Linked DNA regions of Homo sapiens. The protein of the gene in region 5 purifies or fractionates together with the protein of the main gene of each other region. This does not show direct contact. Each region holds a gene or a part of one and is shown on either strand. Other genes may lie near its edges. The genes, in order: RAB33B, AGAP1, RAB10, RAB12, FLCN, PIP4K2C and CREB3L2.

Region 1 (3,500 bases), on a different chromosome or scaffold from region 5:
CAGAAAGCATGACTTAACAACAGTGCCCTTTCAGAATCCGTTAAAATGTTTTATGAAATTTAAGAAAGCCTATATCTGCTAATCCATTCCTAAGCAGTATGTGCAGGTAGTTGAAAGAGGAAAATCTTGTTTGCAAAATTTTGGAAGTCGAATAAAATTATAAAATTAAATTCCTTAAATACAAATACATTCGGCTTTTAAATTGAGACTCCTAACTCTAATCCTTATGCTCCTTCCTCGTGTGTATATCCCCTTCATGACTAATTGTATTCCTTTAGCACAATCATTTTCCAGTGGCAGACACACCAACCCATTAAAGCCTGGTGTTGTATTTAATCCGGCCTCCCATTAGAGGTCAGCAGGTCCTACTTGAACATTTTAGTAGCTTACTTTTTTGTAGCGGTAGAAATGAAATGTTCCCATGTTAAGTGCAAAATGTTAATATTAACTAAAGGAAAATAATCAGGACCTCTCCCCACACTGGTAAAACAAATATTTAATGAGTAATTGCTGGAAAGAAGACATTTTGATAAGCACAGAGAATTATGATACGGCACAAGGGTCAGCAAACTATGCTTGAGGGCCAAAAATGGTCTTTTGCCTGTTTTTACATGGCCACAATCTAAGAATGATTTTTTACATTTTTTAATGTTTAGGGAAAATATCAAGATTTCATGACATGAAAATCATATGAAATTCAAAATTCACCTAGGTTGTACTACTTTAATCCTTCTTATCCTTGTACTCTCACCCCTCTCTTTGCTCTGAGTCCAATTGGTTTTCCACCTGCACACTTTCTATTAACTGTCTTGTCTTCAAAATTCTAGTTCAAGTCCTTTTTTTAACCTCTCTTTGAACTGTTGCAGCAGCTTAACAGTTACAGCAGCTTAACTGATCTCCCAGTCCTCAATTAATCTATTTTGTACATTGTTGCCAAAATGCCCGATTAATGTTGTACTTCAAGATTTATCTCCCCTAACTCAAGTGCCCTTTATATTATATTCTCCATTATGTTATAAAGTTCCAGCTGGGTGTTGTGGCTTGTGCCTGTAGTCCCAGCTACTCCTGAGGCTGAGGTGGGAGCATTGCTGGAGGTTCAAGGGTACAGAGCACTATGATCGAGCCACTCCAGCAGAGCCAGACCCTGTCTCTGTCTCTCTCTCTTTTTTTTTTAACACGTTTATTTTAGGTTCAGGGGTACATGTGCAGGTTTATTGTATAGTTAAACATGTCACAGGGGTTTGGTGTACAGATTATTTTGTCACCCACATATTTTGTCACCCACATATTAAGCATAGTACCCAATAGGTATTTTTTCTGATCTTCCACCTCCCACCTTCCACCCTTCAGGAGGCTCCAGTGTGTGTTGTTCCTGTCTTTGTGTCCGTGCGGTATTTGGTTTTCTGTTCCTGCATTAGTTTGCTTAGGATAATAGCCTCCGGCTCCATGTTGCTGCAAAGGACATGATCTTGTTCTTTTTGTGGCTGCATAGTGTTACATGGTATGTATATACCACATTGTCTTTATCCTGTCTACCATTGATGGGCATTTAGGCTGATTCCATGTCTTTGCTATTGTAAATAGTGCTGTCATGAACATACATGTGTAGATGTCTTTATGACAGAATGATTTATGTTCCTTTGAGTGTATACCCAATAATGGGATTGCTGGAGCAAATGATAATTCTGTTTTTAGCTCTTTGAGGAATCACACCACTTTCCACAAGGGATGAACTAATTTACACTCCCACCAGCAGTGTATAAGTGTTGTCTTTTCTCTGCAACTTTGCCAGCATATGTTATTTTTTGACTTTTTAATAATAGCCCTTCTGACTGGTGTGAGATAGTATCTCATTGTGGTTTTGATTTACATTTCTCTCATGATTAGTGATGTTGAGCATTTTTTCATATGCTTTTTGGCCACAGATATATCTTCTTTTGAAATGTGTCTGTTCATGTCCTTTGCCCTCTTCTTAATGGGGTTGTTTCTATTAAGAACAAATCCCATCTCAAAAAAAAAAAAAAAAAACCTTCCAGCCAGCCAGATTCCAGTGACTCACACCTGTAATCCCGGCACTTTGGGAGGCCAAAGATCACTTGAGCCCAGGAATTCAAGACCAGCCTGGGCAACATAGTGAAGCCCCATCTTTACCAAAAATTTAAAAAAATCAGCCAAGTACGGTGGCATGTACCTGCAGTCCCCGCTGCTCAGGAGGTAAGGCAGGAGGATTGCTTGAGCCCAGGAGTTGGAGGCTCTAGTAAGCCATGATCACACCATTGCTCTCCAGCCTGGGCAAGAGAATGAGACCCTGTCTCTTAAAAACAAAAAAAGAGTCTCCTCACACCTCCAGTCAGCTTCCTTCTATGAACTCTTTTAGCACCTTACCTGAACCTTTAGATGATTTCTATCTCATTGCATACATACCTGTCTTACCTCCCTTACTAAGTTTTATTCAGGGCAGGATCCATGTCTGGTAATTCCATAGACTTCTTTCAGTGTCTAGTTCAGTTCTTTTTTTTTTTTTTTCTTTTGAGACAAAGTCTTGCTCTGTTGCCCAGGCTGGAGTGCAGTGGCATGGTCTCAGCTCACTGCAACCTCCGCCTTCAGGTTTCAAGCAATTCTCCTGCCTCAGCGTCCCAAGTAGCTGGGATTACAGGCGCCTGCCACCCCACCCCGCTAATTTTTTGTATTTTAGTAGAGACGGGGTTTCACCATGTTGGCCAGGCTGGTCTCAAACTCCTGACCTCGTGATCTGCCGCCTCGGCCTCCCAAAGCGCTGGGATTACAGGCGTGAGCCACCGTGTCCGGCCTAGTTCAGTTCTTAAACCACATAGTAAGTACTCAGGGAAAAGTGTTGAATATATAGAGGCAGAGAGATCAGTTGGTAGGGTACTCTGGAAATCCAGAATTGAGGTGATAAGGGAAAATAAAGGGGTGATAGAAGAGGTATTTTGAAGATAAAGCCAAAGTCTTCAGTAACTGGCTGTTGGTGATGAGAAAGAAGAGGACTAGATGAGTGAGGTTGTGAGTCTGGGTGACAGGAGGTAGGTAGTGGAGCTAAGGGGGACTACGTGGAAGATTGAATTTGGACAGGCTCTGTAACATTATGATTTAGTCATGTGTTTATTGAGATGATCCTATATTCAAATGGAAATACTGATTGGCAGCTACAAATACCGGATTGGCACACAGGAGAAATAATTATGCACATGAAGTTGAAGTTTGGAAGCACGGATAGAACAAAATGTAGCTAACATGCCTAGAGAGAATAGTAGAAATTTTGTTAAATTTTTTTATGGCATGATGAAGATGACATTCAGTGAATGCTGTGTAAATATAAAATATAAATTGGGTTACTAATTATTGTTCTGTGTTGATCTTCATTAAAAGTAAATTAATGTTTATAAGTCAAAAAATATTTTATATGAAGTCACCTTATACCCTACCTTAAAACAGAATCAAATTGATACTTTATTTCTTAAAATGTGGTATTGGTGGTT
Region 2 (4,298 bases), on a different chromosome or scaffold from region 5:
CAGGGGTGAGGTCACAGCTGGAGATACATATGAGCTTCATTAACCTGTGTATGATATTCAAAGCCATAAGACAGGGGCGATCACAGCAAATAGCAAAGAAAAGAGGCCTAACCATAAGCCCTGGGGCCCTCCATATTTAGAGGTTAGGGGAGTAGAAGAAAACCACAAAAGGGACAGTGAAGCCAGAAACACAGCAGGAAGCCCTGGTGAGCACTGGGAGAAGGGGTTTCCAGGAGCGCAAGTGATCAGCTGCTGCTGATAGGTCAGGTTTGGTGAGGCCACATGCCTGCCTCTTGGTTACTAGAGTTACTTATGCGTGGACAGCCCGAGGCATGGAGTGATGACCTGTGCCTAAGTGTCAAGGAGAAGACAAGCAGGTCCGGAATGGTAAAAATGTCAGCACATCTTTGGGAAGTTGTGGAGCCCAGCCAGTAAGCCAACACGGCTGGATACCAGGGTGCTTAGGCCATAGCAAACTGCATGTGAGCCGGTGAAGGCTCAGCAGGCTTTAAACGGGGATGCCGGCCCGGCTGGCTGAGTTTCAGAAAGACCACGCCGATGGCTGGGGGCAGGGACTCAGCCAGTGTCCTCAATCCAGGACCTTGTGGGACCGCCCGGCAGCCAGTGCTTCCGCAAATCTGAAGGGTCCCATTTGCCTCAAAGCGGCGAGACGAGCCTTCCAAGCGCTGCTGCAGTGCGGTCCCAGCTCCGCGGGGGGTCCCCGGGGATGACCTAAATCGGGGATTGCGGTGGGACAGACGGTCCAGGGGCTAAGGAACCCCGTGGAGCAGGCAGCGGCGCTCAGGAGGCAGCAGCTTGAGATCCACGGCTCGATTTTTAAAAATTGTAAGGGAGAAGGATGCCTCGAAAGCCTCTGTGGTATTTTGTCGCATCTCGCACCCCTGTCTAAACTTCAGTCCACTCGTGGAGTGTGGACCCCCACGCCGCATGGGCTCAGGAGGCGCTTCGCCTTTGGAAAGAAATCGCATGTATTAAGGGAAAGCACGTGTGCTACTTTGAGAAAGGAGGCAGAAAGTTACCAAACGCGGGAAGGGGAGGCTCGCCAACCAAGCGAGGCCGTGGGACACTGGCGAGTCGCAGAGGCTCCTGGAGCCAGCCGCTTGGAAACAAACAACAACGCGGCGGGCGAACTCCCGGGCAGCCTCCCCCGTGCCGGGGCGCGGGGGCCGCCGCGAGAACCCGGGCAGGAGCTGGCAGGCGCGGGGCCTGGCCGGCGGGAGGGTCCCGCACCCCGGCCCAGTGTGAACACCCCGCGCACCCCCCTGGCCCGGCCCGCCGGGGGCGCGGACTACAAGTCCCAGGAAGCCCAGAGGCAGGCGCGGGGCGGGGCCTGGCGCAATTCCCCGGGATCCGGCGCGCTGGGAAGCGCCGAGGAGGACGCAGCGCCGGCGGCCGGAGGGCGGCAAGCGCGCGGGCAGGCGGGGCGCGGGCGCGGGCGCGGGCGAGGGCGAAGGCGGGGGCGGGGCCGACGTGGGCCGGAGCCCTGCGTGCCAGGGAGGGGGCCGGCCGGGCAGGCGGCGGGCGGCGCTCGGAGCGGGCTCCGCGGCTTGCAAGGCGCCTGCGACTCGGTCCCAGGTCGGCGGGCGGCGCACGGCGGGCTCGCGCGGGGGCCCCGGCGCGCCGGGCGGCGCAGTACGCAGCGCGCGGACCCACGCCACGGCCAGGAGCCCAGAGCAGCGCGGCCACACTGCCCAGGGGTCGGCCCTCGGCCCCGGCGCTCGGAGCGCGGCGGCTGCCTGGGCTTTAATGGCTGCTCCGCGGAGCAGCGCCTAGGGCTGGAAGGCGGCTGCGGCTCAGGAAGTCACCCGAGCAAGCCTCCTTCGGGGCCGGCCGCACCCGCCGCGGCGCGCTCCATGGGGGCGCGCTCCCCCCGGGCGGCCCGCTGACCCGGGACGCCGGGGCCCGCTCGCTCGCCGGCCGCGCGTCCCGGCCATGAACTGAGCCCGCGGGCCAGCCCCGCGCCTGCTCCGCCCGCGCCTTTCTTCTCGCGCCTCCTCCGCCCGCCGCCGGCGGGCCCGGCTCCCCGGGGGCTGCGGCGCCCCGGGCTCGGCGGCCCGCGGGCCCCGGGGCGCGGGGCGGCGGCGGCGGGGGGCGCGCGGCTCCGGGCGCGGCGCCTGCACCATGAACTACCAGCAGCAGCTGGCCAACTCGGCTGCCATCCGGGCCGAGATCCAGCGCTTCGAGTCGGTCCACCCCAACATCTACTCCATCTACGAGCTGCTGGAGCGCGTGGAGGAGCCGGTGCTGCAGAACCAGATCCGGGAGCACGTCATCGCCATCGAAGGTGAGGGCCGGGCCGCCTTGGGGCCTCGGGAAGGCACGGACGCCCGCGGCGCGGCGGGGGTGTGCGCTGTGTGCGTGCGGGTGTCCACACACGCCGGCCGGGGCACGCGGCTGCTCCGCCGAGGGAGCACTGCGGCGCTGCTTGTCTTGCAAGGCCGGGCGAGCGTCGCCTGCGCCCCGCCGCGCCGCGAGCTCCGCCAGGAAGATAGATCGTCAGCGTTAATTTGATCGTGGACAATAGAGTCTCTCCTGCGGGAAAGTGGCTCGGTGCCTCCGCGTCCTGGGCTGCCGGAGCGTCCCGGCCCAGCAGACGCCTGGGGGCAGCCGGCGGGGTCGGCGCCACCCGACCCCTGACAGGTTACCAGGCCAGGCCTGGGCGTCTTGCTGGACGTTGAAGACGTGTTCTGAGAAGTGCTGCCGCTGGGGGCGAGGCCCGGGCCGGCGTGTTTGGGCGGTGCAGGGCTGCCCTCCTTAGTGTGTTTGCTTAATTCAGGGGTGCAGTTGAACTTAGTGGATGCCGAGAGCCAGCCCTAGCCGCGGGAGCATCGTGTCCAGGTGCCCCTGTGCAAACGCTGGAACCGGTAGTGTGCTTTGTACCAACCAAAAGTCCGGGGTTGGATTAGAGGAAGAACCCTACCAGGAGGGCAGGGCGTCCTCCAGCGGAAGGGTCTCGCTTTCATATGTCTGCAGTTGGAGGCCACTGAAGTGGAGGGTGCTGTGGTTTTAAGAGGGGCAGGATGCTTGGGCAGAATCCCCACCCGCTTCCCTCTGCATGTCAGGCAGGGCCATGGCCTTCCAGGAGAGCTACAGCAGCAGTCTGCCTTCCGGGGCTGTGCCCTCTGGATTTCTGGTGGCTCTCATTTCTCTGTTTCCAGGCTGCTGATTTATTTTCTTGCTTCATCCCTTTGGTCCGGCCAAGACTCACCTGGGGCACCAGGTGGCATGTGCGTGGACAGTGTGGAGTCATATCTTAGCCACAGTTGATCAGCACTTTCTCCCTTCTCAGCGCTGTTGGCCAGTGATGGTAAAAAGCCTGCAGAGTGGCTTGTCCATAATACAGACTGGCCGGTAAGACCTCTATTGAGGAACATTGAGAATGGCCCAAAGCCGGCAGGAATGTGCCTGAAAGCCTGGTGCTGGCGTTGCCCAGCCTCCTCCCTCTGTGAGGGAGAGGGTATCAGCCCACAGAGAGGCTTTGCCTTGGCACTATGTAGTCTGAACTACTAACCCCGAAGTGCTTTGGTTTGAAACTTGGCCAGTTAGGTGGAGAAAGTGGATGTTGTGTTGCTGAGCCCTTGGCATTTGGCAGCCCTGTAGACTTGAACCATGTCCCAGCCAGGCTGGATGACTGGCAGACTATACCCTTGGGGGACTTGTTAATTCCAGGGGAGGATCCGGGTGGAGCTCCAGCCTTATGGGGTCCTAGCCCTTTGTGTGTATCTGTCTCCCATGAGGTCACCTGGCTGCCTTGTTGGTGACTTAAGATGCTCTGTGGATTCCTCAAGAGATGGGCTCTGTCTGCCTCTGCATGACTCGTGATGAGTGGCGGTGGGACCTGGACCCATCTGCTGATGATCAGGTGGTGTTGCAGCAAGGTTCCTCCAGAGCTCCAGCTCTGCGTCTGTTACGGGAGCTGTGAAGGCTGCACGGTGCTCATTTCAGATGGTTCTTCCTGGCTCTCTGGCTGCATCCACAGAAGTCTGATGAAACACTGTGAAAGCCGGCGTCAGGTATTGAAGGCACCTGGCTGAGAGCCTCTTTTGCTGCATGAAGACCTCTGGCTGAGTGGGGTTCACAACACCTCGTTTTTATTTCCCATTCTTGAAGCTGAGCTCTGGGGCTCAAGCACTTCCAGCAAAGCAGTTTGACTTTCTAGCAAGAGGATGTGGTTGCATTTTCCTTTCTCCCTTAAAAGAAAAAAAAAATGCGTCGTTCCTAGATGATGGTTTTTTTTGACAGCACGATGCCTACCTTTGCGATTTGAGATTTTAGGC
Region 3 (3,500 bases), on a different chromosome or scaffold from region 5:
TTTTTCATGTTATAGAAATATAATATTGCTTCTAGGCATTTTGAAATATATGGAATACTAATATAGTAAAAACCTAACTAAGAAAATAGTTCCATTGCATGTGAAAATGTTGTTTTTTTTTCTGTATTTTGGGTTTTTTTGAGATAGAGTCTCACTTCATCACCCAGGCTGGAGTGCAGTGGCACAATCTTGGCTCACTGCAATCTCTGCTTTCTGGGTTCAAGTGATTCTAGTGTCTTAGTGTCTTGAGTAGCTGGAATTACAGGTGTGCACCACCACACCCGGCTAATTTTTGTATTTGTAGTAGAGATGGGGTCTCGCCATGTTGGCCAGGCTGGTCTTGAACTTCTGGCCTCAAGTGATCTGCCCACCTTGGCCTCCTGAAGTGCTAGGATTGCAGGCATGAGCCACTGCACCCAGCCTGATGTTACTTTTTATAAGTTAAAATTATGTATCAAAGCATGTCTGTTTCTTTGCTACAGCATAGGTGGCTTCTTGTTAAGAGTTGTTTTTCATGCCTTATTGCTACCTTCTAGGCTTTGAGTTTTGTTAACAGTAACTCTTTGAAGCAAATTTTGGCCAGATACACAAAGACCAAGTCTTAAACCAATATTAGACCCAAGATAATACCCCTAATGGTAGCAATCCTAAGGGCTCATTACCACTGTTTTGTTGCTACAATAAATCTTTGGGAGAAGCTTATTATTTTTTAATAATTATTTAAAGATACACAGATCTTGGCTGGGCGCGGTGGCTCACGCCTGTAATCCCAGCACTCTGGGAGGCCGAGGTGGGCGGATCACCTGAGGTCAGGAGTTCGAGACCAGCCTGACCAACATGGAGAAACCCCGTCTCTACTAAAAATACAAACTTAGCTGGGTGGGGTGGCACATGCCTGTAATCCCAGCTACTTGGGAGGCTGAGGCAGGAGAATCGCTTGAACCCAGGGGGTGGAGGTTGCAGTGAGCTGAGATCACGCACCATTGTACTCCAGCCTGGGCAACAAGAGCGAAACTCCATCTCAAAAAAAAAAAAAAATACAAATCTTAAAACAAAAAAGCTTTATTTTGATTTCCTTATTCTTTATTTTATTGTTCAGGTAAGTAGTCTGTAGTAAGAGCAGTTTAGAGATTCTGCAGTGTGTTTCCAACAACCACCAATTCTCTGATTCTACCACATGAACTGGTGTCCTGCTATTCAATGCTATTCTGACACTGACTACCCTGAATTAGTATCAGACTCCACAAGTTTAAGGACTCATTCCTACAAAATTGCCCTCACTTGAGATGCCATTTGCAAGTCCTGGGTCCCCAGGCTTACCCACATTTCTGCCTTCTGTCCAAGCTGGCTATAGATTTTGGGGATGCCAACAATGCCACTCCATGTGATCATTTGCTAGGGTGAGTCATAGAACTTAGGAAAATGCTATACTTGGGATTACAGTTTCATTATAAAGTATACAATTCAGGAACAGCCAAATGGAAGAGAGGCATATGTGGGGAGTAGCGGCAGGGCTCCAGAGCTTCCATCCCCTCTCTGGATACGCCACCTCTCCCAGCACCTTGATGTGTTCACCGAATTGGAATATTCCTTACCCTCAGTTTTTCAGATTTTTGAATTGAAGTTCCATCACTTAGGCATAATTGATTAAATCATTGACTTCTGGTGATTGAGTGTAATGTCTGTCTCCCTTCCCCTCCTAGGAGGTCAGGAAGTGGGACTGAAATTTCCAATCCTCTTATCACTTGGTTGGTTCCTCTGGAGACCAGCCCCCATTCTGAAGCTAGATAGGAGCCTTGTCATCAGTCACCTCATTAGCATAAACTCATTATAGTCAAAAGAATCTTGTTATGAATAACAAAAGACAACCCTGTCACTCAGGAAATTGGGAGGTCAGTGACAGGAACTGGGAACAAAGACCTAATATATGTTTTTATTATACCGCAGACTTAAACATCTGACATGGTAGACTGGATGGTTTGTTTCCCAAGATAAACTGAGAAACATACAACCCAGGTATCAAAAAGGAAAATTGTGGGTGTGGTGGTGTACACCTGTGGTCCCAGTTACTTGGGAGGCTGAGGCAGAAAGATTGCTTGAGCCCAAGAATTCAAGGCTGCAGTGAGCTATTATCATACCACTGTGCTTCAGCCTGGGTGACAGAGTGAGACTCTGTCTCTGAAAAAGAAAAGAAGTTATTTAAAAAGAAAATCTTGGCCAGGCGCAGTGGCTCATGCCTGTAATCCCAGCACTTTGGGAGGCTGAGGCAGGCGGATCACCTGAGGTCAGGAGTTTGAAACCAGTCTGGTCGACATGGTGAAACCCTGTCTCTATGAAAAACACAAAAAATTAGCCGGGCATGATGGTGGGCACCTGTAGTCTCAGCTACTCAGGAGGCCAAGGCAGGAGAATCACTTGAACCCAGGAGGCGGAGGAGGTTGCAGTGAGCCAAGATTGCACCACTGCACTCCATCCTGGGCAGCAGAGTGCAACTCCGTCTCAAAAAGAAAGAAAGAGGAAATCTTGTTTCTCTGGTGTATTAAAGGATTATATAACATGATCAAGAGGAACTTACCCAGGAATGCAAGGGTCAGAACCTGTCAATGTAATACACCATATTAATAGACGACAAAACCATACAGTTATCTCAGTTCACACAGAAAAAACATTTGACAAAATCCAACATTCTTTTATGATTAAAACAGTCAGCCAAACGCAGTGGCTCACACCCGTAAATCCCAGCACTTTGGGAGGCCGAGGCAAGTGGATCACCTGAGGTCAGGAGTTCGAGACCAGCCTGGCCAACATGGTGAAACCTCGTCTCTACTAAAAATACAAAAATCAGCCAGGTGTGATGGCAAACACCTGTAACCCCAGCTACTCGGGAGGCTGAGGCAGGAGAATCGCTTGAGCCCAGGAGGTGGAGGTTGCAGTAAGCCAAGATCGTGCCATTGTGCTCCAGCCTGGGCGACAGAGCAAGACTCTGTCTCAAAAAAAAGTCAACAAACTAGGAATAGCAAAGAACTTCCTTAATCCTGTAAGTGACATCTATAAAAATACCACAGCTATTATTGTACCTGTCCCCTAAGATCAAGAGCATGGCAAGAATATCTACTCTGGCCACTTCTGTTCAACATTATGCTGAGTTCCAGCCAGAGCTAAAAAAAAAAAAAAAAAGAAAGAAAGAAAAAAAGCCATCCAGAGTGAAACAACTATTTATAAATGGTAGAATATTTTATATAGAAAATCCTTAAGAACCCACAAACATATACCCAGAAAACTCTTAGAACTAATAAACAAGTTCAGCAAGGTTACAAGAAATGAGATCAACATATAAAAATCAGCTTTATTTCTGTACACTAGCAATAACCTAAAAATTACATTGAGAATAAATTTCCATTTGTAATAATATCAAAAGGCAAAAAATACTTAGGAGTAAATTTAACCAAAAGAGTGTAAGACTTGAACACAGAAAACCACAAAATATTGTTGAAAGAAAT
Region 4 (3,224 bases), on a different chromosome or scaffold from region 5:
CCCACCCCCGTTTTTCTGTGAGAATTCAGTTGGAGACCTAGCCAAGTCTGCAGGTGTCTTAGCGGAAAAGAGAGCCCCGTGGTGCTGCGCTTGCATCCCTTCCTGTTCTGCTCCCTGGTGGGAGCCACTTCCTTACAGAGACCTTTCCATGATGCTGAGTTGCAAGAAAATTGCTAGACAGCTTCATTGAGCAGCAGCAGTTTCTTCAGGCATCTTTAGGCTTACATTCAAAAATTGTTAATAAGAACTGAAGTTTATGTTATTAAGTGAAATTTGCTCAGTTCATACATAATTCAGAAGCTTCTAATAAAGTAATTGTTTAGGCTGGGTGTGGTAGCTCACACCTATAATCCCAGCACTTTGGAAAGTCAAGGTGGGAGGATCACTTGAGGCCAGGAGTTCAAGACCAGACTGGGCAACACAGTGAAGCCCCATCTCTACAAAAAAAATTTAAAAATTAGCAAGGTGTAGTGGCATGTACCTGGTTGTAGTAATCCCAGCTACCCAGGCTGATGCAGGAGGATTGCTTGAGCCCAGGAATTTGAGGAATTTGATACAGTGAGCTATGATCGTATCTACACTCCAGCCTGGGTGACAGAATGAGACACTGTCTCTATTTAAAAAAAAAAAAAAAAGTTTATATAATTGCCAAGGTAGGTTATGTCTGTCTTTAGTAAGTATGCAACTCCTTGGAATGCAGACCATTTTTAAAATTTATTAATGTATTTTTATTTTGCCTGGTTCTGTGAAAATATATGTTTATGAGGTTGATCTGTTCTCTTCTACCATAGGGTATTAAGCAGGCTGGGCATTGTTCATGTTGTGATATGAAGTGTCTTGAACATGGCTTTTTTTGGCTTAATATTTTAATGTCTAATTGATCTTTAACGATCGGAGGACTTTCAATAATAATACTTTTTTTTATATAATTGTATAATTTGGAAAGCATTTACAGTTGACCCTTGAACAACAAGGGGGCTAGAGGTGCTGACCCCCTAAACAGTCAGAAATCTGAGTATAACTTGACTCCCTAAAAACTTAACGACTAAAAGCCTATCACTGACTGGAAGCCTTACTGATAACATAAACAGTCACTTAACACATAGGTTGTATGTTATACGTATTTTATACCATGTTCTTAAAGTAAGCTAGAGAAAAGAAAATGTTATTAAGAAAATCATAAGGAAGAGAAAATATATTTACTATTCATTAGTGGAAGTGGATCATCATAAAGGTCTTCATCTGTGTCATCTTCACATTGAGTAGGCTGAGGAGGAGGAGGAGGAGGAGGGATTGGTCTTGCTGTCTCTTCCGGGTGGCAGAGGCGGAGGAGAAGGTGAGTGGGGAGGCAGGAGAGGCAGGTGAAACTTGTATTGAAAAGCAGCTGTGTATAAGTGGACCTGTGCAGTTGAAACTCATGTTCAAGGGTCAGCTGTATGTGTACCTTGTAAAGTTAAAACGGATTTTTTTTTGTTTGTTTATACGTTAGATGCCTCTGGATATTTTAAGGAATGAGTTGTCCAATAGTATCCTGTCGTTACAACCAGAGCCTGAGATACCGCCAGAACTGCCTCCACCAAGACCACATGTCCGATGCTGTTGATTTCCTACTTTGGAGACAAAGTGGAAATGATTCCTGGAAAGGGGAAAAAACGTTCTATTCTGCACTACAATCATTTTGACAATTTCCTTTCGCACTTTGTAATCCAAGTCAGAGCTATACACTAACTTGTAAATATGCATATATGCAATCCTGGGTAAGTTTTGGTTATAAGTTACCTATTTCCCTCCAAATTATTATATTTCATTCATTACCCCAGTGTCTAGTGTACATACACTGGGAAACCTAGTACTTCTAATATGAAGAATGGGAGAAATGAAAGGTATAATGTTTCTTGAAATAAATAATATAATTGTCCTTATTAATTATATTATGAGGACAGAAGATATTCTGATAAGAGAGAACGTGGTGCTTTGCTTACCGTTTTAAAGAAAATTTGTAAAACTAAAGACTTTTTGAAAAAAAGCTATCTTAAGTGCTTTTTCTTTATTTACAAGACATTTCCCCCAGTGGTAGCATCTGAAGTATTGGAGTGTTTCTGCCACGAAGCAAAGCTCCATTCATGGCCGTCATGGAAGGTTATTTATTAATGTTACATAATGGTAGAATATTACTAGTTAGAGGGTTGGATTTGACTTGGTCCTAAGGCCACAGAATCTCTCTCATGGCTTCCTAAGGGATGTACCTTTATGCTTTTAAGAACTACAAAGATTCAATAAAGAAAGAAATGTTTTTGAAACTATAGAAAAAGATTTTAAAACACGCTGCTGTCCTAAACAAATCCTGTTTAAAGGAATTTTAAAGAGATGCATTTTACTATATCAAAGAACATACGTGTATTTGCCTAAACACTCTGTACCTTTGTAATGATAAAACTTCCCCCTTCTTTACGGTGAAGCTTATTCTGATTAAGCCTAGACTGTGTTCTTTTTTTTTTTTTTTTTTTTTTTTTTTTTTTTTTTTTTTTTTTTTGGTCTGATGATGAATTTGTGAACTCTATCTTTGGTATATCTTTTATTAAACTGCACTGTTTTGTTTAGTCAAGGTAATTAAGTAATTATGTATTTGAATAACTTGGTGTGTCTTGAGTGTTGTGGTATGAAAAGCATTGTGGTCTTTCTACACTAATGAAGTGCAAATAAAATTTTGTATTTATGAATGAAGTTGAGTTGCCATATTTATTTATCCAATTATAAATTGTATATATGACAGTATTCTCCATGAGCTCCACAGCTTAATCCTTTTGAGTGTTTAGACAGGAAAAGCATAGTCCTCCACTGGGGAAAAGAGTTTGATGTTTTCTCAAAGGGCTGAACATAGAGCTACCATATGATCCAGCAATTTGACTTCTAGGTTTATATCTAAAAGATCGAAAGCAGAGACTCAAACAGGTACTTGTACACCAGTGCCCACGGCAGCATTGTTCACGAGAGCCGAAAGGTGGAAACCGCCCCAATGTCCATCAGCAAAATAATGGATAAACAAAATGTGTGTTCTACAAACAATGGGATATTCATCCTTAAAAAGAAAGGAAATGCTGTCACATGTGCAGCGCGGATGAATCTTGAAGACATTACGCTGAGTGAAATAAGCAGGCCCAGAAGGACTGATACTGCCTGATTCCACTTACATGAGGTATATGGAGCACCCAGATTCATAGAGA
Region 5 (3,500 bases):
AAGGCTTCGTTGGGAGGATCACTTGAGCCCAGAAGATTGAGGCTGCAGTAAGCCGTGATCGTGCCACTGCATTCCAGCCTGGGCAACAGAGCGAGACACTGTCTCAAATAAAAAAGATGGGAATAGTAGACACTGGGGGCTCCAGAAGGAGGGAGGGAGGGAGGAAGGGGAGGAAGGGCTGAAATGCTTTCTATTGGATACTATCTGGGCATATTACTTCCTGTGGTTCACTGTCTGGGTGACAGGATTCATAGAAGCCCAAACTTTAGCACCACGCAGCATACCCTTGTAACAAAGCCGCACACGTACGCCCTCAAGCTAAAACAAAAGTGGACCGGGAGGCCGAGGTCGGGGGATCATGAGGTCAGGAGTTTGAGACCAGCCTGGCAGATAACGGTGAAACCCCGTCTCTACTAAAAATACCAAAAAAAGTTAGCCGGACATGGTGGCAGGTGCCTGTAGTCCCAGCTACTTGGGAGGCTGGGGCAGAAGAATCGCTTGAACCCAGGAGGCGGAGGTTGCAGTGAGCCGAGATTGCGCCACTGCACTCCAGCCTGTGCGACAGAGTGAGACTCCGTCTCAAAAAAAAAAAAAAAAAAAAAAGTGGAAAAAAAAGAAACAACGTGTAGATCCTCGAGAACTGTGGCCGACTGGGTGTGTTCCGTAGACACGCTGTTGGCATTTTTCTTACTGATTTGAGTTTTCTCACCAGCAGAGAACAGCTGACGGTCTTTCCATAAGTGCTTCTAAGAGAGATGTGTGGTACCCCGGGCTAAGTAGACAGCAACTGAGCCCTCCCTCCCACCCCAGGGCTCCCAGAGCAACAGGGAGCAGGGAGCATAGGACCTGGCCGCAGCCAGGAATCTACACTGACCGGCTCAGCCCATGAAGTATCTTGGGCTGAAGTCACAGGATGAGACTGTTTGTATCTGTAACTGTCCTTGTCATCTGTCTTGCAGATTTAGAAGAGGAATCAGAAAGCTGGGACAACTCTGAGGCTGAAGAGGAGGAGAAAGCCCCTGTGTTGCCAGAGAGTACAGAAGGGCGGGAGCTGACCCAGGGCCCGGCAGAGTCCTCCTCTCTCTCAGGCTGTGGGAGCTGGCAGCCCCGGAAGCTGCCAGTCTTCAAGTCCCTCCGGCACATGAGGCAGGTAGGCGGCAGGGGCACAGCGCATCAGGAGCTCAGGAGGAGAGCCAGTCATGGGCTGTCCCTGCCCACACGCCTTGCCTCTGGACCCTCCACCTTCAAAACCCTGCAGGAAGTGACTGACAGCCTCCTCGGTGGGTGGCTGAGGGCACAGGGCGTTGGGGGTATTAGCCATAGGATCAGTGCTCCCCTTTCAGTGATGACCTAAGTATCTTCAAAGAAAAGCCCAGATAGTTGGCATCCCATGGTCCTCTAATCCTCTAAGAAGCTCCTAAAGGCATTGAACAGCACTGTAATTGGTTTGGATGCAGCCTGGACCCTGCCCATTGTAAGTGATGGTCTGGCTGGGCGTGGTGGCTCTCACCTGTAATCCCAGCACTTTGGGAGGCCAAGGGGGAGCGGATCACGAGGTCAGGAGTTCGAGACCAGCCTGGCCAACATGGTGAAACCCCATCTCTATTAATACAAAAATTAGCTGGGCATGGTGGCATGTGCCTGTAGTCCCAGCTACTTGGAGGCTGAGGCAGGAGAATCGCTTGAACCTGGGAGGTGGAGGTTAACAGTGAGCCAAGATGGCACCACTGCACTCCAGACTGGTGACAGAGCGAGACTCCATCTCAAAAAAAAAAAAAAAAAGAAAGTGATGGTCATTCTTACAAAAAATTAGGAACAACTTGCATATCAAACCATACTAGTAAACAGTAGCCAAACCATGGAATATGATTAATTAGAAGAAATAAAGCAGGCACTGTGTGTTCAGGGTGATGTATGTACATGTGTGCCTGCCAGACACGACAAAATCTAACAGTGTTGTCTCCAGTTACATCGAGTCAGATGCCGGGAGAGAGGGGTGTGGGTTGCTGGATTACAAGGGCAGGCTGCCTTCTTATAAAATTCTTCTGCATGAATTTTTCCAATGAGCACTGATTCATTAGAAGAGAGTTATTTGTTTTTGAAAATGGAGTGAGACTGATTTCATGGCAGATGTCCTTGGGGCTTCTGGATGTAAACACCCATTCCATCAAAATCCTGCATTTGGCTGAAACCTTCCTTGTCCGTTGCTTATGTTGATGAAGGTTGGAAGGGGTCTGGAATTCCTCTGGAGGTGGGACTACTTTGAGGCTGTTGGGGTTTGGTGAGACATAGTATTGTGGCCTCTCTCTTATGTTGTGTTTCAAAGCTGGGTTTGGCTTCTTAGAAGCCGTGAGACAGCAGGCTGGACTCTCCTAAGGTGTCAATGTCATGGAAGTTAATAACAGGTGGGGTGTGGGGAGAGGCTGTTCTAGGTTAAAGAATAAGGACGTGACAACTAAAAGCCATGATGGGTCCTGTAGTATCTCCTGGATCCAAAGAACAGCAGCCGTCAAGCAGGCAGCAGCCCTGGGCTTGTGCACACGGCTGGATGTCAGATGCGTCCGTCCAGGCACTCCTGGCTGCAGTCATGGTCTCAGCTGTGGAGATGCCCTTATTCTCCTGGGTGCTGCCATGTCGAGGGCCCTACAGCTTGCTTTCAAATGGTTCAGCAGAAAGTGTCTGTAGAGAGAAGGTGAATATTGCACAAAGTTAACATCTTTTTGCTTCAAATTTTTAAAAACAAAACTGGGAGAAAGATCTTGGAGCAAGAGCTTTGGAATCTAGCATTTATGTGCAAACCTGGAACTTCTCTCTCTGCCCCTTTAACCCTGGGCCGGGCACCCGCCTCCCTGAGAAGATAAGTGTCTTTCTCCTGAGCCCTGTCTTTGCTCTACAAAGTTTTATGAACACACAAATAACTTCATGGGAAGGGAGAGAAAAACCATTTCTACTAGTCACGCTGAAAGCACTGCACTCTCTTGTTTAGGTCCTGGGTGCCCCTTCTTTCCGCATGCTGGCCTGGCACGTTCTCATGGGGAACCAGGTGATCTGGAAAAGCAGAGACGTGGACCTCGTCCAGTCAGCTTTTGAAGTACTTCGGGTGAGAACATCTTTTCCTTAGGTGTGCGGCGCAGGGCAGTATTGGCCTGGTGCCTGGCGTCAGGTGGGGATGCCAAGGTGCACCGACTGCCCAGCACAGAACCGCTGTGCACCACACGGTCTCCACTGGGGGCGCAGTGGGCACGGAGACCCGGGTCTGGTCTGATGATGTTTAAATCATCAGAAGGATGCGTGTGCCTGCTGACTGCCCAGGCCTGAGAGGGAACAAAAATGCATATGACACAGTCTTGGTAAAAGCTTCTTTGTGGGATGCGGTAGGAGACAAACATCTGTGCAGGCAAACATTAATATGAGTTAACACCACAGAGCGAGGGGCGGTACAAGCTGGTGTGTGACTGGCGGTCCAGACAAGAGTTAGGGACCTGGTGGTGGAGGACCCT
Region 6 (3,500 bases), on a different chromosome or scaffold from region 5:
TCAGTGAGTTGAAAATTTAACATCCTTCCCAAATGCAGAAATTAGTTTTGTGCAAGGAAACCATGAGAATAATTTCTGGTGTTCCCTATATCCTTATATGAATCAGTGTTATCTCTCCTCTAGCCTGGCAATTCCATAGAGTAAATATGTACAGATACCATTACCTGCTCTTTCTCTCTTTTTCTGCTTGTGACCTTGGAGATGCCATGAGAACCATTAGCTTCTGACAGGGACTCCTTGAAAGAAAAACTTGAATTCTCTACTAAGCCCTCCTAGGAAAAGAAGATGCCATTCAAAACAGTGGTGTCTGTTGCTGACTTTAGAATGCTTCTGACTTGCTTGAGATTTGGGAAATGCTGCTGTTTGGATGGGTAGTAGATCCTGGCTCTACTATACCACTTACCAACCATGTTACTTAGGCAGGTCACTGAATCACTCTGAGACAGTCTCCTCTTCTATAAAATGGAAATAATATGTTTTTATAGGACCTCACAAGGGCCAGGCGTGGTGGCTCATGCCTGTAATCCCAGCAGTTTGGGAGGCCAAGGCGGGTGGATCACTTGAGGTCAGGAGTTCGAGACCAGCCTGCAAACATGGCAAAACCCTATCTCTACTAAAAATACAAAAAATTAGCCAGGCATGGTGGCGCATGCCTGTAGTCCCAGCTACTTGGGAGGCTGAGGCAGGAGAATTGCTTGAACCCGGGGGATGGAGGTTGTGGTGAGCCGAGATTGCACCACTGCAGTCCAACCTGGCAACAGAGTGAGACTCTGTCTCAAAAAATAATAATAACAAATAAAAATTAAAAAAAAAGGACCTCACAGGGTTTTATGAGAATCAAATGAGGTAATATGTCTGAAGGTACTTTATAAACTACCAAGTGTATGTAAATGTAATATTGTTTGTTTTCTTACTTTGAAAACCTGAATTTCAGGGAAAATCTGCCCAGTCATTTCAAGTTCAAGGAGTATTGTCCCCAGGTCTTCAGGAACCTCCGTGATCGATTTGGCATTGATGACCAAGATTACTTGGTGAGAGTCCATTAAGGGGTGAGGGTAGCCCTTTCTCCCCAGCAACTGAGGAGTACTATTTGGGACAGCCATATTTGGAGAAATGAGAGTCTTGGCAAATATAATTCTTTACCTTTTTGTGATTGCAGCATTTTCAAAAATTTAATGAAAATTATAAACCTTGTCCTTGGGGGAAAAGATGTAGATACATTAAGAATTTTGGCCAGGCGCTGTGGCTCACGCCTGTAATCCCAACACTTTGGGAGGCCGAGGCGGGCAGATCACCTGAGGTCAGGAGTTCGAGACCATCCTGGCCAACATGGCAAAACCCTGTCTCTACTAAAGATATGAAAATTAGCCAGGTGTGGTGGCGCACGTCTAGTCCCCGCTACTTGGGAGGCTGAGGCAGGAGAATCACCTGAACTTGGGAGGCGAAGGTTGCAATGAGCTGAGATCGTACCACTACACTCCAGCCTGGGTGACAGAGCGAGACTCCTTGTCAAAAAAAAAAAAAAAAAAGAATTTTGCATTCAGTTTCCTTCAGTCCACATATGGACACCTGATGAGGAACTGTGCTGAATCTCCTACCCCAGGGATTCATCCACTTTCAGCTGACCATTTTCCTATGACTTGTTTCTGCATATAAAGAGGGAGGAAAAGAGCTCTGGCCTATTCTGTGTCCCCAGGTGTCCCTTACCCGAAACCCCCCCAGCGAAAGTGAAGGCAGTGATGGTCGCTTCCTTATCTCCTACGATCGGACTCTGGTCATCAAAGAAGTATCCAGTGAGGACATTGCTGACATGCATAGCAACCTCTCCAACTATCACCAGGTCAGGCCTCTCTCTAGCCCCATTCTTTCCCTCTCCTCCCTACTCACATATAGCTCAGCTATTGTCAGTAATAGATGCCAACTGGGGAGAAAACTCATTGGAAGAGAGAATCCATAATCATATCCAGCCCTAAATGGGATGAGGGAAGCTATTCTGTCTGATAAGATTTACAGGCTGGGGGCAGTGGCTCACACCTGTAGTCCCAGCACTTTGGGAGGCTGAGGCGGGAGGATCACCTGAGGTCGGGAGTTCGAGACCAGTCTGACCAACATGGAGAAACCCCGTCTCTACTAAAAGTACAAAATTAGCTGGGCATGATGGCTCATGCCTGTAATCCCAGCTGCTCAGGAGGCTAACGCAGGAGAATCACTTGAACCCGGGAAGCGGAGGTTGTAGTGAGCCGAGATCGTGCATTTGCACTTCAGCCTGGGCAACAAGAGCAAAACTCCGCCTAAAAAAAAAAAAAAAGATTAAAAAAAAAAAGATTTACTTGGAATGTGGAGTTTATGGAATGTTTTGGCAGTAAAAACACTCTTCTTGAACATCTCTACTGAAGAAAAATTTCACCAAAATCAGTGAGCAAGGAATACATCAGAGTCCAAAAGGAGTCTTTGGTTTATGCAACAAATATTGAATACCTCTTATTAGGCCCTATGTTAGGCAGTAGAGTAGGAGGTAAATGAAACATCTGTGGCCCTTACAGATCCCTTGGTCTGATGGCAGTGACCAGTGACCCAGTATTAGCACACCGCAAGATATATACAATAGTAGAAGTCTGTACAGAATATTCTGAAGCTAGTGAAGAGCATCCGAACTCACCTGGGGAAGGAAATGCACCTGGGAGGCTAAAGAGAGTTTTTTAGAGGAGATACTGTAAGAGTTGATCCTTGAAGGACTAGTAGAGGTTAACCATTGGACAGGGTGGAAGAGCATTCTAGGCAAAGGAAAACAGCACTTGTAAGGCACAGAGCCATGAGAGAACTTGGTGTTAGAAAACAGCAAGAAATTCCATTTGGATGGGATGTAGTACTGTGGAAATAGGCAGGAGCCAGATTGTAAAGAGGCTTATAAGCCCCACAAAGAAGTTTGGACTTTATCCTGAAGGTGGTTTTGCAAGGGGCGTGATATATTTGTTATTTAGAAATATTTAGAAAATGTGACAGCGTTTTAGAGAATGGATTGGTGGGAGGGAACACTGGAAGGGTGGATACCAGTTAGGAGGTAATTTTAATAGTCCAGGGTAGAAACAATGAAGGCCTGGGGGAGCGATGGTGGTGGGGATAGAAAGGAAGACCTATGGGAGAACTGAGAGTTAAGACACAGGGGCCTCCAAGTTCCTGGTTAGGGATAACTGGGTGCCTATTCACCAGAAATTAGAAACAGAGGAACAGGTTTTTGGAGGAAGAAAGTTCTGATTTGGACATACTGAATTTGAGGTTTCTGCAATTCATCCAGATGAGGATGTCCAGTAAGTGGTTGGGGTATGTGTACAGAATTCAGGAAAGAGGATTAGACTGGGAGTATAGGTTTGAGAATTATATGTGAGTAAGTGATCATTAAAACCATGGCTATAGATACGATTATTGTAGGGAGGTTGTGTGCAGTGAAATGAAAAGAAGGTTGAGGACAGAACCTAAAGGAACAAGTGAAGAAATGAGCC
Region 7 (4,090 bases), on a different chromosome or scaffold from region 5:
TAGGACCAGACAAATGCAATAGTTTATATGATAAACTGCTGCTTTAAAGACAACATAGAGTTCAAAGACATTTGTCTCCACCCGCCAAAAAATACTTGCCAAGGAAACAACACAATAGCTAATACCTGAATGTGCCATTGTAAGAAACTTCTAGAGCTAACTGGCAAAGACCTGCTTTTATATTTAAGATAGGTAAACTATATTTTTGGAATTAAAAAGGAGGAAGAAGAATCACAGTGTTCGGGGGAATTCCTTTAGAACAGGCCATCTCTTCCCTATTCTAGGAGGCAGGCCTGGTGCTCTGGCCCTGGCTCACCTTTCTGGCCTTTCCCACCCCTCCCTGCCAAGCACCTCTGCTGCAGCCACACTGGCCTCCCCAGCAATCACGTGAATACCAGCTTCCCCCGAAATCTCATTTCCTTTAGGAAGAACTTCCCTGATCAGCACGTAAAATAGCATCGATCTTGACGCATCCTGTTTTCCTGCTTTTATTTTTCTTTATAGCAATTTCCACTTTCTGAATTTAAATGTTTATTTCTTTGTTTATTGCCTGACTCCTCTGAGATAAAAGCTCTATGAATTCAAGGACTGGGCTCACTTCTGTAGGACCTGGAAAAGCATGCCATTGACTCTTATCAAGCAGATGAAAGAAAAACATACAATAAGTGAAGTCCATAAAAAATAGAAGAACCCAACAGAAAATGGGCGAAAAAGGTGAAGAACAATGACAATTTCCTAGAGCTGCACTAATATAAATGTATGTGCATGAGGAATATTTGTATTTTTGTATAATATGTAATCCATTAAAAAAATTCCGAGAGATTCAAATGAACTAAAGTACTCGAAAATGTTTAAGCCCCCCGCGCAACAACTCTCGCGCCCCCTGTCGGCGCGCTGGTAAATTTCTGAGGATTCTCAGCAAGAGGACTGAACTCACCCTCCCTCTTTTACAAAATGTATTCTTGTCGCTATTTCATTGGCTGTACCTTTCAGACGCCCCTTTCACATTAGTCAAGCCTCCAGTCCATCACTTCCGGACCCAAGCCCTCTATTGGTCAGCTGTAGGCGACAGCAGACAGCGGGCCGCGCTCAAGCAGGAGGAGTTCCTCGGTGACGTCACAGACACTCCCCGGCTACATTCCAAGGCGTGGGCGGAGACTTCCCGCGGCCTCTGCCTTTGGGGGCGGGACAAAGCCGAGAATGAGACTTCTGATTGGGTCTGCTAGGCAAGGCGGATATCCAATTGGTCAAGCCTTGGAGGGAGGTGGGGCCGCAGCTGGGTCCTGGAGCAGAGCCGAGGAGCCCTGGGGTCCCTCAAAGTTTGTGTCTGGAGCCGTAGCGGCAAGTGGGCTTGCGGCTAAGGGATTTTCCTGGGATGAGAGCGGGTCTTCTGCCTTCATTTTGGATGCACATCCCGCTTTAGCCCCGGCAGCCTTTGGTCCGGCTCGTGTCCCTGGGGATTCTCGGATCTCCGAGGACACCGGACGGGAGCGCTTGGCCATCCTCTCTCCGGCAGAGGAGCAGACGTTTGCTTTCCAAGTGCAAAACTACAGACACGCGCGCGCACACACGCAAGCACACGCGGAGAGAGAGGAACCTTGCCGGTCCGAGGCAGCTCTGCGCGTCCCCTCCTGCGCTTAGCATCCTCGGCCCAGCGCGGCCCGCACCGCCATGGAGGTGCTGGAGAGCGGGGAGCAGGGCGTGCTGCAGTGGGACCGCAAGCTGAGCGAGCTGTCAGAGCCCGGGGACGGCGAGGCCCTCATGTACCACACGGTGAGGACCCGGCGGGCGGGGCAGGAGGGCTTTCAAAGCGGGCAAGTGTTGTCACGCGAGGAGCAGCTGGAGTCCTGGGACCCGGGAAGGCAGGGTTTGGGGCAGGGCATGGTCAGAATCAAGAGGTCCTGGGCGAGGTGTACTTTAATGTCTGAGCAGATGAAGGCGGGCAGCTGGCCCCTTTACATTTCTCATGAGAGTAATGCCACTTTGTATTCCTTTAACAATTCATGCTTTTTTCCCTGAGGCTTTTTCCATCTGTAATATCATTTGCTGTTGTTAACAGTACTGTAATGCGGGAGAGGGAGTGTGTGTTTTGAGAATAACATGCCTCCGCCTAGTTTGCTATTGATTTTTTTTTGAGGTTTTCAAAAACTGGACAAGATTAAGTAGCATTTCCTTTTCATCTGTCTCGTATTCTCTCTCCCTCTCTCCCTCCCTTCCTCTTCTTTCATATTTATATTTTAAAAAGTACACGTGTGTGTGTGTGTGTGTGTGTGTGTGTGTGTGTGTGTGTGTGTTGAAAGGGCTCCTCTACGTTAGGGAGAAAGGCGGCTTTATTTGCTTTCTTAAACTGTACGACCAAGAAGTCTCCTTCCTCCCTCTTCGGAGGAAAAACCAGCAGAGGAGTATGGAAAATCTGAGACAGTTGCATATTTAAGAAAGGCTCTGGGGAAGGTGGGACAGCTCACCAGTTGCTTGTTCAGTCTTATACTAATGCCTCAGAGATCTCTTGGGGGATTAAGCTGTCCCAGAGCACGCACATTTCTTTTAAAGTTTTTAATGTCAAGTTTTTGGTATTAAGTTTGCAAAATGAAATTTTGTTTTCAATAGCCAGCACTGATCATAGGACTTTATGCAAGATCTCTTTGTTTGATTCTTATCCATGCAGACGTTTGTAATGGGGGTGGGGCTGGGGTGAGGGGGGACACTAATGAGAAAACCACTGGAGGCTTGGCTGCTTCCCCTTCACGCTTTTTTAATGGGGTCAGTACCAAGATATTTGAAACTTTCGCAAAATGGCCTGCAGGCTCCACCTCTTTGGCCTTTGACTCTGGCTGACGTTATTTTGAGACAAGGAATGAGGGCCTCCCTGCTGATTCCCACCGAAGTATTTGTGGTGGCTGAGAGTGGCTTGTTTAAAAAAAATGCAGAGTGCAGGGCTGAGAGGGAGTGGTAGTTCATGCTGGGGCAAAAGCCAGATGTTCAGTGTGATCTTCTGGGCTTTGCTTGCTGAGCTTGTCATGGGGACACTATGTGGGCAGCACGGAGGTTGGGGTACCAGATGTGCTTCCTGTCCTCAGTAAAGAACTTGGAGTATGTTGTTCCTCAAATATCTTTTGATGAATGGGTGCTCCAGGAGTTTCTACTGACAGGCTACATTTTATCCATATGCAGAGGGGCAGCCCTTCTCTTTTGTTCTTGAAGTATTCTTTCGCTGTGACAGTGTCTCATCCAGCAGCTGCAATGCCACAGCTAGGGGGTTGTCTTTCAGCTGGTGGGATGAATTACGCACAGGCATCTACCTTGCTGTTCTTTGGCCCTGTAGCTTGCATTTGTGAGTTCACAGGGAAAGGTGCGAGATGCTACCCGTGACTGTGGCATTCACTCTGGGAAGAACTGCTTGGACTGGCTCTAACTAACACCTTATGCACACTTTCAGGGAGTAGAGGCCTTACATTTGCTTTGATATTAACAGCCCAGTTTTTCTGTCATTGTGATAAAGCAGGAATGTGTGATTATTTTTCTTTTATTTCTATTTTTAAAAAATGCTTATTATGTCCTCCACTTAGGTACATGTCTGTTGTGAACAGCTCATTCCTGTAAAATGCTGCTCATCATTGCTGCAAGTCAGTGCAACAAACTGTGCATATGAATTACTGTTGAAAGAGGTATTGGTTTAGCAGCACAAATGATTGGGTTATATTTCTCTCAAACTAAGGGACGTTTGGGAGAGGTGGGGAGATAATTTTCCCATCTGTTTCCTGAACTCTGTTAGATATCCAGGGGCAGAGCTGTTTGTTACTCTAGCTGAATCTTTATGTAGAAAAAGGATGGCCTGATTATTCATTCAGTCAGAGAGATATTTGTTCTTTCGATTAATATTTGTGGAATATATAAAGCACTTGGAAACATGAGTGAACAGAAGCAGACAAAATCCCTGACTTCTAGAAGCTTATATTCGTGTGTGTGTGTGTGTGTGTGTGTGTGTGTGTGTGTGTGTAGGGGAACATAAACAATAAACATTATAAAGAAGTGATTATGTTGGATGAAATAAGTGTTATGGAAAACGTATAAGTAGAACAAGGTGAGGGGG

The links.
Region 1: the proteins of FLCN (region 5) and RAB33B purify together in Homo sapiens (affinity purification with mass spectrometry, with the first as the bait; one study listed by BioGRID). This does not show direct contact.
Region 2: the proteins of FLCN (region 5) and AGAP1 purify together in Homo sapiens (affinity purification with mass spectrometry; 2 studies listed by BioGRID and IntAct, with this or other methods). This does not show direct contact.
Region 3: the proteins of FLCN (region 5) and RAB10 purify together in Homo sapiens (affinity purification with mass spectrometry, with the first as the bait; one study listed by BioGRID). This does not show direct contact.
Region 4: the proteins of FLCN (region 5) and RAB12 purify together in Homo sapiens (affinity purification with mass spectrometry, with the first as the bait; one study listed by BioGRID). This does not show direct contact.
Region 6: the proteins of FLCN (region 5) and PIP4K2C purify together in Homo sapiens (affinity purification with mass spectrometry, with the first as the bait; one study listed by BioGRID). This does not show direct contact.
Region 7: the proteins of FLCN (region 5) and CREB3L2 purify together in Homo sapiens (co-immunoprecipitation; one large-scale study listed by IntAct). This does not show direct contact.

Annotation. Positions count from the first base shown.
Region 1 is NC_000004.12:139,457,121-139,460,620, forward strand, and holds part of RAB33B (ras-related protein Rab-33B), read left to right. Parts: intron 1-3,500. UniProt on the Homo sapiens protein: The small GTPases Rab are key regulators of intracellular membrane trafficking, from the formation of transport vesicles to their fusion with membranes.
Region 2 is NC_000002.12:235,492,545-235,496,842, forward strand, and holds the start of AGAP1 (arf-GAP with GTPase, ANK repeat and PH domain-containing protein 1), read left to right. Parts: upstream 1-1,498; 5' UTR 1,499-2,142; coding exon 2,143-2,305; intron 2,306-4,298. UniProt on the Homo sapiens protein: GTPase-activating protein for ARF1 and, to a lesser extent, ARF5. Directly and specifically regulates the adapter protein 3 (AP-3)-dependent trafficking of proteins in the endosomal-lysosomal system.
Region 3 is NC_000002.12:26,110,584-26,114,083, forward strand, and holds part of RAB10 (ras-related protein Rab-10), read left to right. Parts: intron 1-3,500. UniProt on the Homo sapiens protein: The small GTPases Rab are key regulators of intracellular membrane trafficking, from the formation of transport vesicles to their fusion with membranes.
Region 4 is NC_000018.10:8,636,660-8,639,883, forward strand, and holds the end of RAB12 (ras-related protein Rab-12), read left to right. Parts: intron 1-1,489; coding exon 1,490-1,603; 3' UTR 1,604-2,724; downstream 2,725-3,224. UniProt on the Homo sapiens protein: The small GTPases Rab are key regulators of intracellular membrane trafficking, from the formation of transport vesicles to their fusion with membranes.
Region 5 is NC_000017.11:17,216,669-17,220,168, reverse strand, and holds part of FLCN (folliculin), read left to right. Parts: exon of another isoform or gene 1-602; intron 603-959; coding exon 960-1,150; intron 1,151-2,986; coding exon 2,987-3,100; intron 3,101-3,500. UniProt on the Homo sapiens protein: Multi-functional protein, involved in both the cellular response to amino acid availability and in the regulation of glycolysis.
Region 6 is NC_000012.12:57,594,192-57,597,691, forward strand, and holds part of PIP4K2C (phosphatidylinositol 5-phosphate 4-kinase type-2 gamma), read left to right. Parts: intron 1-934; coding exon 935-1,031; intron 1,032-1,696; coding exon 1,697-1,840; intron 1,841-3,500. UniProt on the Homo sapiens protein: Phosphatidylinositol 5-phosphate 4-kinase with low enzymatic activity. May be a GTP sensor, has higher GTP-dependent kinase activity than ATP-dependent kinase activity. PIP4Ks negatively regulate insulin signaling through a catalytic-independent mechanism.
Region 7 is NC_000007.14:137,999,287-138,003,376, reverse strand, and holds the start of CREB3L2 (cyclic AMP-responsive element-binding protein 3-like protein 2), read left to right. Parts: upstream 1-1,290; 5' UTR 1,291-1,671; coding exon 1,672-1,773; intron 1,774-4,090. UniProt on the Homo sapiens protein: Transcription factor involved in unfolded protein response (UPR).